3 linked regions of the Homo sapiens genome follow. The protein of the gene in region 1 purifies or fractionates together with the protein of each later gene. This does not show direct contact. Each region holds a gene or a part of one and is shown in the gene's direction. Other genes may lie near its edges.

The links.
Region 2: the proteins of ARL11 (region 1) and MTMR8 purify together in Homo sapiens (affinity purification with mass spectrometry; 2 studies listed by BioGRID and IntAct, with this or other methods). This does not show direct contact.
Region 3: the proteins of ARL11 (region 1) and SESTD1 purify together in Homo sapiens (affinity purification with mass spectrometry; 2 studies listed by BioGRID and IntAct, with this or other methods). This does not show direct contact.

What each region holds. Positions count from the first base shown.
Region 1 is NC_000013.11:49,626,144-49,629,897, forward strand, and holds the start of ARL11 (ADP-ribosylation factor-like protein 11), read left to right. Parts: upstream 1-2,363; 5' UTR 2,364-2,472; intron 2,473-3,754.
Region 2 is NC_000023.11:64,346,828-64,350,581, reverse strand, and holds part of MTMR8 (phosphatidylinositol-3,5-bisphosphate 3-phosphatase MTMR8), read left to right. Parts: intron 1-511; coding exon 512-640; intron 641-1,787; coding exon 1,788-1,922; intron 1,923-3,754. UniProt on the Homo sapiens protein: Lipid phosphatase that specifically dephosphorylates the D-3 position of phosphatidylinositol 3-phosphate and phosphatidylinositol 3,5-bisphosphate, generating phosphatidylinositol and phosphatidylinositol 5-phosphate.
Region 3 is NC_000002.12:179,118,107-179,121,860, reverse strand, and holds part of SESTD1 (SEC14 domain and spectrin repeat-containing protein 1), read left to right. Parts: coding exon 1-91; intron 92-3,754. UniProt on the Homo sapiens protein: May act as the primary docking protein directing membrane turnover and assembly of the transient receptor potential channels TRPC4 and TRPC5.

The sequences.
Region 1 (3,754 bases):
CCTAATCAGTTCTTCCTGCTAAAATACAGTAGCTTAACAAAAACAATGACAACAACAATCTGGTGTTTGCCATTTACAAGGCACTTTCTGTGTGAGTAGCATGACATGGTAAAAGAGAAAGAGATGAATTATAAAACGCAGCAAGATCATGAGTCAATGATTCACCCTGTCCCAGCCTGCTTCTTTTTTTTTTTTTTTGAGACAGAGTCTTGCTCTGTCACCAGGCTGGAGTGCAGTGGCGCGATCTCAGCTCACTGCAACCTCCGCCTTCCGGGTTCAAGCGATTCTCCTGCCTCAGCCACCCGAGTAGCTGGGACTACAAGTGTGCGCCACCATGCCCAGCTAATTTTTGTATTTTTAGTAGAGATGGGGTTTCACCATGTTGGCCAGGATGGTCTCGATTTCTTGACCTTGTGATCTGCCCGCCTCGGCCTTCCAACCGAGCCTGCTTCTTTTCTTGTAAAATGGAAGAGTCATAACATCCAACTTGAGTCTTGATATTTTAATGAAATAATGCATGGGAAAGCAGAAAACAGCACAAAGATTACTGGTTATAAGAGCTAAATCACTGTGACTCCATATCCAAATTCAATACCTACTGAATCAGTGGTTTCTGACTAGTCAATTTTTTTTCTTTTTTTCTTTTTTTTTTTGAGACAGAGTCTCGGCTGGGTGCAGTGGCTCACACCTGTAATCCCAGCTCTTTGGGAGGCCGAGGCGGGCAGATCACTCGAGATTAGAAGCTGGAGACCAGCCTGGCCAACATGGCAAAACCCTGTCTCTACTGAAAATAAAAAAATTATCCAGGCATGGTAGCACGTGCCTGTAATCCCAGGTACTCGGGAGGCTGAGGTGGGAGAATTGCTTGAACCTAGGAGGCGGAGGTTGCAGTGAGCCGAGATTGTGCCATTGCACTCCAGCCTGGGCGCCAGAGCGAGACTCCATCTCAATTAAAAAAAAAAAATAGGAGAGAGACAGAGTCTCACTCTGTCTTCTAGGCTGGAGTGCAGTGCTGTGATCTCAGCTCACTGCAGCCTCCACCTCCTGGGCTCATGCAGTTCTTGGGCCTCAATCTCCCAAGTACCTGGAACTACAGGCACACATCACCATGCCTGGTTAATTTATTATTTTTTGTAGAGACGTGGTTTCACCATATTGGCCAGGCTGGTCTTGAACTCCTGAGCTTGAGCGATCCTCCTGCCTTGGCCTCCCAAAGTGCTGGGATTACAGGCATGAGCCCCCATGCCCGGCGACTAGCCAATTTTTTAAAAATTACATTTTCTAGAGGTGTCATTTTTACTGGGAAAAACACAGTGACACCATTCAAGAAAAAATTGAACGGTAACTTTAATCACTACATTAACACAATTTTAAAGGTTGATCTGCATCATACATACCTTTTAAAGAATGTTTTCATCATATGTAGACAGCTTTTTTTGTTTTTTGTTTTTGTTTTTGTTTTGAGGCAGAGTCTCGCTCTGTCACCAAGGCTGGAGTGCAGTGGTGTGATCTGGGCTCACTGCAACCTCCGCCTCCCGGGTTCATGCCATTCTCCTGCCTCAGCCTCCCAAATAGCTGGGCCTACAGGTAGGTGCCACCACGCCCAGCTAATTTTTGTATTTTTAGTAGAGACGGGGTTTCACCATGTTAGCCAGGCTGGTCTCGAACTCCTGACCTCGTGATCCACCCACCTCAGCCCCCCAAAATGTTGGGATTACAGGCCTGAGCCACCACGCCTGGCCATAGGCAGCTTTTAAAAGAACACATGTGCAGCCTGGCCATCATGGTGAAACCTGTCTTTATGAAAAATACAAAAATCAGCTGGGCATGGTGGCACCTGCCTATAATCCCACTTGCTTAGGAGGTTGAGGAGGGAGGATCGCTTGAGCCCTGGAGGCGGAGGCTGCTGTCCAGCCTGGGCGACAGAGCAAGACTCGGTCTCAAATAGAAAACAAAACAAAACAACAACAACAACAACAACAAACCATGTGTGATTCCAAGCAAATCAGAGAATCTCTAGCCACCAGAAAAACCTTGAGGCATGTACTGAAAGGAAGAGGTCAGAATTCTCTGCGAGGAGCTCAGAGGATCCTGAGGGAAGAGAGAAGGCGGCTGCGCTTGGACACAGCTCCGAGCTCGTGCTCCCTCCTTCAGGCACCCAAGTCTGAGTTGCTAAAAAATGGAGCTGTCACTGGGCCTTGCTCTGCCAGGACCTGCAGAGCCGGGGACCTCTCTGTGGCAAGCCCAGCAAGATGACTGCTCTGAGGCGCCCTAGGGCTGAGGGAGGGGCCGTGACACCAGCCCCGCCCCCCAGCCACCTGGGAAAAGGAAGCACAAAAAGGAGAAGCAGCAACGGCTGCTCTGCTTCCTTCCCATCTCGCTCTTGGGTCATGCCTGGCCAGCAGAAAGCAGCTCCATAGGGGAGGAGAGCCACGCAGGATCTCACAGCTGCAGTCTAATAGTAACACAGAGGTAATTTTAACTTTTTACTTTTCTACCCTTGGGAGTAGGGATGAGTAGAGGCTTACCTCCTTCCAGAGGCAGCTCATATCCCCCCACCCCCATTCCCGGAAGTTGAGATGTCTCTTCTCTGTTCCACGCAGGCATCGTCTAAGTTGGGAACAGGTCTTATGTCTTAAAATTTGGGATTCTTTAAAAACATATGTGGCTGGGCACAGTGGCTCACGCCTGTAATCCCAGCACTTTGGGAGGCCGGGCAGGTGGATAATTTGAGGTCAGGAGTTCAATACCAGCCAGGCCAACATGGTGAAACCTCGTCTCTAATATAAATACAAAAAGTAGCTGGGTGGTAGTAGTAGCTGTAATCCCAGGTACTCGGGAGGCTGAGGCAGGAGAATCCCTTGAACCTAGGAGGCGGAGGTTGCAGGGAGGCAGAGGTTGTGATGAGCCAAGATTGCACCACTGCACTCCAGTCTGGGTGACACAGTGAGACCCTGTCTCAAAACAACAACAAAAATGTGTGATGGCACATGCCCATAGTCCCAGCTACTGGGGAGGCTGAGGTGGGAGGATGGCTTGAGCCTGGGAAGTCGAGGCTGCAGTGAGCTGTGATCATGCCACTGCAGTCCAGCCTGGGCGACAGAGTGAGACCCTGTCTCAAAACAAAACAAAACAAAACAAAACAAAAAAACCCAAAAACAAACAAAAAAGCACATGTGGAGTGTTGTAGAAGTCATTGACCTTGGTAAGACAGTGGAGGAAACTGCTTTGCTCTGACTCATAAATTTGCCCCCAGTAAACAGTATTTATAAATAGCCCCAGTCAGGCACTGCATGAAGACATTTCAGTCAACGACAGACCACATATACAACGGTGGTCCCATAAGATTATAACAGAGCTGAAAAATTCCTATTTTTCAGCTTAGTGTTGTGGTGCAACCACTACCTTTTCTATGTTTAGATACACGAATACTTAGCACTGTGTTACAATAGCCTACAGTACCCATTACAGGAATGCTGTACCGGTGTGTAGCCCAGGAGCAATGGGCCATACCATATAGCCTAGGTGTGGAGTAGACTAGACCATCCACGTTTGTGTAATTACAATCTATGATTTTGTAAAATGATGAAATTGCCTAATGAAGCATTTCTCAGAATGTGTCCCCGTCATTAAGTGACACCTCACTGTGTTTCCAAGACATAGTACTGGTCCTTGGGAAGCTCTAAAGAGAGGTCACCGTGAGCTGAACCATCCTTCTCACTCTGTGCATGGAACCCAGCTTAGCTTCCATTTC
Region 2 (3,754 bases), on another chromosome or scaffold:
CTATTCCTCAGAAATAGAAATGAAAATATCCTTGGTATAAAAGCTTTTCCAAGTGTGCTATTATTTTCTAGAAAGGAAGGGATTGAGACATATAAGAACAAAATGTACTTTTAGAATTAGAAAAACAAAAATCATAGACAGAAACACACATAAAACCCCATGTTGAAATTCCTACGTGTGCATATCAGAGCAAAAACAATAACTGTAAACAAGTGAATTAATATGAACGGACACAAATATGAAGCAGACAGGTAGAGGAGGAGGAAATATGATGTACTCTTTCATAAACTACATACTAGGTTCCTAGTATTCATATCTGGACGGCCTTTAAAACACTAGTCTTGGGGTGGAGGTGTTGACATTTTAGGTGTGACTTACTCTATGAAAAGACTGACATATTTTCTCAAGTTTATCAGCTTTTAGTGGTTACCAAAATACGTATTTCCAAAGAGACAGTTATATATAAATGTATAAATATATATTTATATATATTGTGCTTATTTTCTTTTAGATATGCAGCACCTACCCTCCTGAAATAGTGGTTCCTAAATCTGTTACCTTGGGAACGGTGGTTGGAAGTTCAAAGTTCAGAAGTAAAGAACGTGTCCCTGTGCTCTCCTACCTCTACAAAGAGAACAATGTAAGTTAAGCAGATTTCTCTAATGATAATTAAACATGGCTCTGGAAGACCTGTTTTAAGTTTCATGCTGCCACTTAGTAGCTGTGTGACCTCAGGCAAGTTACTTAACTTCTCTGGACTTTCATACTTCTGAAGGTTTTTGAGAGGATCTCAGTAGGAATAATATGTACAATGTACTTTGTAAATTGTAAAATGTTATGCAGATGTTAAGTGTCATTTTAGTATGTTTATTTCTTTTTCTTTTTTTCCTTTTCTGTGGGATCCAGCTTTGTGGAAAGTTGTGAAATGACAGAAAATTAGTTGTATACAGGATTTTTTGGGGGCTGTGGCCTCCCAGTAGAATACAGATATCCTTGATACTTTCTTAGTGCTTTTCATATAATTTCAGGTAGTAGTAAGAAAGCACTTGACTCCTCTGTGTTTCAATCCCCTTACTTATGTAGGAAGTGATAATATTTATCACCTCTTGTAATCACTCTGAGATCTGGGGTTAGACAAATAGGCAAGTTGTCAGGTGGGCAACCGTTCAAGTGCTAAGGAGTATAGTAATGCAATTGGGTGTCATATTATTGAAGTGAGTTGACCCCTTAAAAGCCACATCAAAGTGTAACGAATTTCATGAACTAATCATTACCAGACATTCATGTTAAATAGTTACGTTGTTTTTGTGTTAAAGTGGCTTGAAACAAACCACCCTTCTGATTTGGCATTAACTTCTGAAACTAGTGAACCCTGTTTTCTTAAGACGCTGTAGATCTTTGCTCTATCTTGAATTCTGCTGCCTCCGCAAGCTTATGGTTTATGTGGGCAATATTACTGGGACTGTAAAAAGTGAGGCGGTTTCAGAAAAATAGCCCATTATATATCGAGAATAGAATTTCACTAAGGAAATACTCATGATGTGATTTTTTTTGTAGTCTGATTTACCAAGACTGGGTTGGAAATTAGAGCCACATGCCCAGGGTAGGCAGGAGGTTAAGCCCAATGTCAGTGGAGAATGACTTTAGAGTCACATTTCTCTTTGCTTTGGACACTATCTTAAGTTGGCTCATCCTCTCCCTCTACTCATGGAACCTGGCAAGGGTCAAGAAAGATTTTTGACCATTTGTGAATATAATCACTCAACTGACACACCTTTTCCTTACAGGCTGCCATTTGCCGCTGTAGCCAGCCTCTCTCTGGATTTTACACTCGCTGTGTAGATGATGAGCTCTTGTTGGAGGCCATTAGCCAAACAAACCCAGGGAGCCAGTTTATGTATGTTGTAGACACAAGACCAAAGGTATCTATTTCTCAGTGATTTCTTTGATATTTCTGCCTCTTGCATTCTACCTCCTCATATATTGAGACATGCAGTGTTATTGGGAAAGTTAGGTTTGTGTATGTGTGTTTATTATGTCAGACATTGTGTAAAATCATTTCAGGAAGCCATTTGGGGCTCCTTTTATAAGGTTGCCACTGTCAAGTGAGGTTATGAGAGGGTATTTCAAGCAACCTGTCTTTCCCACCTCAGTGTGACGTCCTGCATAGAAGGCTCCTTAACATCCCTCATCTTTTTTACCAAGTCTGTTCCTTAACCAGAATTTTCAGTATTCCCATTCTGTGGTCTAGATTTACTGTTAGAGAAAGAGCTTCAACTTAGACATTGGAAACTTACTACAACCAACATGTTTTTTTTTTTTCTATAAATGTGTTAGGCCACAGTAATTTAATAATACTTTGGTTCTCCCAAAGCACCAGGGTTCACAAATTTTACTGCTATGCAATTAACAAAAAATCTTTAGCTCATATGGCAGTAATTCTTTTTTAGCATCTAGTACTGTTAGCTGATTAAATTTTTGCCGGTTTAGTACAGTGCAGTTTAAATCTTCGTCCCAGAGAATTAAAAAGACCAAGTTCATAAATTTGCCGTGGATTTTGGCAGTGGACATGGATAGACCTAGTCAAATCCTTTGATCTTTCCAATAATCTAATGCTGCATGATTTGTTGCAATGTGTTTTCTCAGGCTTTGTCTCTTTCAAATATGAACATTGCTGAACAGAGTGTCCTCATGTTAACCTAAGTATCAGCTTAAACTCCTCTCTGCATTAATTCCTTAACCTTCAAAGTTTTGTGTGGCTCTATATGGGCTGTAGAAGAACTCATTGTGTCCCACAAAAGAAGTAAAGGATAGATTCCATATTCTTAAATGTTGTCCTTTTTACAAACAGCCCCAGAAAGAAATAATTTTGCTTATAATTTGGTATGTAAAGTGTGACTGACTAAGAGGTTTCATTGCTGATTCTAGTCATTACTAAATTGGTGATTTTCATCTAAGCCTAAGCCAGATGGTTGTGACTTAAGAGTTGAGCAGTTGGATGTACATGAAACCAGATAGTTGCCTTAGACAGCTTTCTGCCCCATCTTTGTGATCCCTCAGTGGCTATTCTCCAGAGCTACCTAGGACTGACTGAGCTCAGGAGAGAAAATAATTTCCCTTTCTGTTCAGGCCCATCCTTCAGTTTCTCAGAAGCTTGCTGTCTTGTTTCAGCCATAACTGCATCTGAAATTCTGCAATTGAAAAGAGTTTAATCGAGTCTGTATCTTTAAAAATTAAATAATCTTAAAATAGTAAAGAGAAATACACCAAGCTTTTGAAGAAACAAAAGAGTTGGTGCCTTTTGTTCAAATCTAACACCAAAAAGCCCCCTTTTTTTTAACAGGTTCCATTTTCCTCTCTCCAATTTGAGCAAATTAAGACAGGCCTAGAAATATCTGGCATTCCCTCTCTTCTGGATGGCTAGATCCGTACTTTTAGTAGGAACTATATTATACTGACAAAATTTTGTTCTAGGAGTCAGTCAAACCTGAGGTCAAATCCTGCTTTCAGCCTTTATCCATATCATCTTGGGCAAATTGGTTCATCTCTCTGAGCCTGTTTTCTTATGGGGATAATATAGCACCCATTTTGAGAGGCTGTAATGAGGATTAAGTGAGATAATGTACATAAAGGATTTAGCACAGTGTCAGGCATATAATAGGAGCTCAATAAATATTACATTACAATAAATATTACATCTGACATTCTGCAATTGGAAAGAGTTTAATCGCGTCTGTATCTTTAAAGATTAAAT
Region 3 (3,754 bases), on another chromosome or scaffold:
GGGCCTATGGAAAGGATGTAACCATTGAAAATAAAGAAAATGTGGACCACATACAAGGAGTGATGGAAGATATGCAGCTTAGAAAACAAAGGCAAAGTTTGACCGTTAATTACTTTTTACTAAAATAATAACAATATTAGTTAAAATGAAGTTATATAACATTTTATATACAGACAAAACGTTCTTAACTGTTATATAGAAGACATGTAGTAGGTTTTTGGTGAATGTGATAATTACTGTATATAATTTTACTAACATAGTAATAATTTATTCAATTATTAGGTACCATTTTCCTTTTTATTGGGTTGTAAAAATTTCAATTATACTCAACTATTTCAAATTCCATATCCCCAGTGTAGTCTATGACTCTTCTGCTTTAAAAAAAACTTACTGAAGAATAATTTTGCTTTTTAAATTTCATTTAGTTTAGAGTTGCCATTAAACTTGTCATCTACATTGATCTGTTTCTTCATCTAAACTTACAGAATGTCACACATTCATTGTTCTCATATTTGCTGTAGGAGGATTAAACAGTGGACTAGTGATGTTTAGTTTCATTTTCTATAAAACTAGGAATTCAAAAGATTCTTTGAAAACTCAGTTTGCAATAGCAACTACAAAGTATTGCAAAGTAAAGGATTAAAATTATGCAATATACACAATCTAGCATGGTTATATGAAATTTTGCACACTTAAAAATTTTATGATCATCAACAAAACTTCACAGAAAGCTTCCTTCTGCATCACAGAGAAAACAGTCATGAGGCAGAAATTTCTTCCCTCATATCTGCAAACTTACTTTTATTCTGTCACCACAGAGGATGATAGAGCTCTCCGTTTATATCAAAAAATATCAAAGCTGAGCTTCCATTTAGGCTCTGATTCTGATCACCCTCCTGACTCCTAACTCCATCAAATCCCATTCTCTACTCTGGTTCCTGCCCTCACTTAAATGCTTAAATTTCTCCTGTTTTAAAAATAATAATCACACATATGGGTACGTCTTCCTCTTCAACTCTTTGTCTTTTAGCATTAGAACTCTTCCTCACAGCTAAGTCATTTGGATAGGTTTACGGTACATTCATACTACTTCCCCCACTACCTCCAATTTATTTTCAACTCTTTTCAGTCTGACTTCTACCCTAACTATTTCATTCAGTGTTGCTCTTACCAGCATTACCAACGTAATAAATGCTGTATCTTACTTAAAGTTCAGAGAATACTTTTAGTCTTGACTTGCTTAACTGTGATTAGCGTTAGGCACAACTGACTTTTCGATTTCATCTTTCTTGAAAACACATTTATGATCCTTCTCTGTTTCTTCTTGGTTTTTGTCACTGATTTCTTGGCCACTAGCTAAAGTTACTGCTTCCAGGGTTTGTTCTGAGGCCAGATTCCCTTCTTTATATATTCTCCCTGGACATTCTCACTACTTGAATTACTTTCTTTAATAGATCATGGTTTAGTAGTTACAGCTCTCCCGTGCTGTAGACCCATAATTCCAATTGCCTACTTAGTGTCGCCTGCGGGATGCCCCATGTACTGCTGAAATCTAGTGTATTAGTCCATTCTTGCATTGCTATAAAAAACTACCTGAGACTGGGTAATTTTTCTTTTCTTTTCTTTTTTTTTTGAAACAGAGTCTCGCTCTGTCACTAGGCTGGAGTGCAGTGGTATGATCAAGGCTCACTGCAACATCCACCTCCTGGGTTCAAGCGATTCTTCTGCCTCAGCCTTCCGAGTAGCTGGGACTATAGGCGGGTGCCACTGCACCCGGCTAATTTTTGTATTTTTAGTAGAGACGGTGTTTCACCATGTCAGCCAGGCTGGTTTCAAACTCCTGACCTCGTGATCCGCCCACTTTGGCTTCCCAAGGTGCTGGGATCACAGGCGTGAGCCACCGCACCCGGCCGAGACTGGGTAATTTTTAAAGAAAAGAGGCTTAATGGGCTCACAGTCCCACAGGCTGTACAGGAAGTATGGCTGGGGAAACCTCAGGAAACTTCCACTCATGATGGAAGGTGAAGGGGAAACAGACACATCTTACTTGGATGGAGAAAGAGGAAAAGAGTGAAGGGGGAGGTGCGGCACACTTTTAAACAACCAGATCTCATGAGAACTCACTTACTGACATGAAAACAGCAAGGGGGATATGTGCCCCCATGATCCAGTCATCTCCCACCAGGCCCCTTGTATTTATTAGTCCATTCTCACGCTGCTATACCTAAGACAGGATAATTTATAAAGGAAAGAAGTTTAATTGACTCACAGCTTTGCAGGGCTGGAGAGGCCTCAGGAAACAGAATCGTGGTGGAAGGGGAGGCATCTAATCACATCCCACCAGGCTCCTCCTCCAATATTGGGATTACACTTTGATGTTAGATTTAAGTGGGGACACAAATCCAAAACCCAGATCCAAACCAGATCACCTAGTATGTCCAGACTGGAATCATTTTCCTCTAAAACTTGCTCTCCTTTTTTAATTTCCTGCCTAGGTTAAAGTTACCATCAGCTACCAAACTTGAGATTTATCCTAAAATCCTTCATCTTTCTCATCCCTTATAGCTTAATCAAATGTCCAGGTTCTGCTGTCTCTGAATCTCAAACATTTATGGTCAAGATCTTAAACTCTTATCTGCCTCTGGCCTGGCTACTCTCCAGCTTTTTGTATATAAGTGTAATTTTCATAAAGTACAACAATTGTGTAAAACTTCCTTCAGTGACTTCCTGTTTGCTCAGATGGAGTTTGTCTTCTTGGAATAATGTAGGAGACCCTTCATAATCCAATTCTTGCATAATTTTATCTTCTATAACATTCCCATAAAATCACACAGTTGTTTTTATCTCCCTGAAAGCATCATGCTGTTTCATGCATCCATGACTAAGAATACTTGTTTCCTTGTTTTCTGCTCAGTGAATTCCTACTTACTCTTCAAGACTCAGGGATACTTACTTTACTTTAGGAAGCCTTTTTGGACTTCTAAGGCAAGTTAGTCACTTGCTCCTCCCTACTCTCATAAAACATTTTAAATAGCTTTATAATAGTACTTATAACATCTCTGCAAATGGGAGCATCTTGATAGTAGAGACCATATCTTATATTTTCCCCAGCACACATTATCTAATACCTGAATACAGTATATGTATGATACCATCTTCATCAAAGTGGCCTACATTGTTTTTTAGTTTCATATTTAAAAAATAATTATCACTTCCCTTCAGTCCATTGTAGAATTACTTTAACCAAGTTGAATTTTAATGTCATGTTATAGCTTTTATTCAGAGCATCTTTATTTTTTTTTAAAAAAAAGCCTTGTGATACCTACTTCTATATTGTTATTAAGCTTTCTTTAAGGACATCAAGTATAGTAGAGCACAGTGTCTGGTAACATATTATCGGTATTTGAGACTGCAGTGGGAGTCCCCCATCCCACCTGCAGTACGCAGAATTTCATGGAAATGAAGGAAATGGACCAGAGTTAAGTTAGGTTAAGTTGCCTTAAAAATTTAAATGGTTATATTATCCAAAAAGACCACAATGAGATTAAAAAAATAATTTGAATTGTGTTTCTCTACACCCAGAGGTCAGTAGAGTTTTTTTGTTTTTTTAAGCCCTCCATCTAGTTTTTAAGAATGTAGATGGAGGGTTTTAAAAAAAATCAGAATTAAATATTATTTTAGGTACTATAATATAATGAAAAGCGTTAATGTTTAAATGTTTCTTTAGCTGGGCATAGTGATGCACACCTGTAGT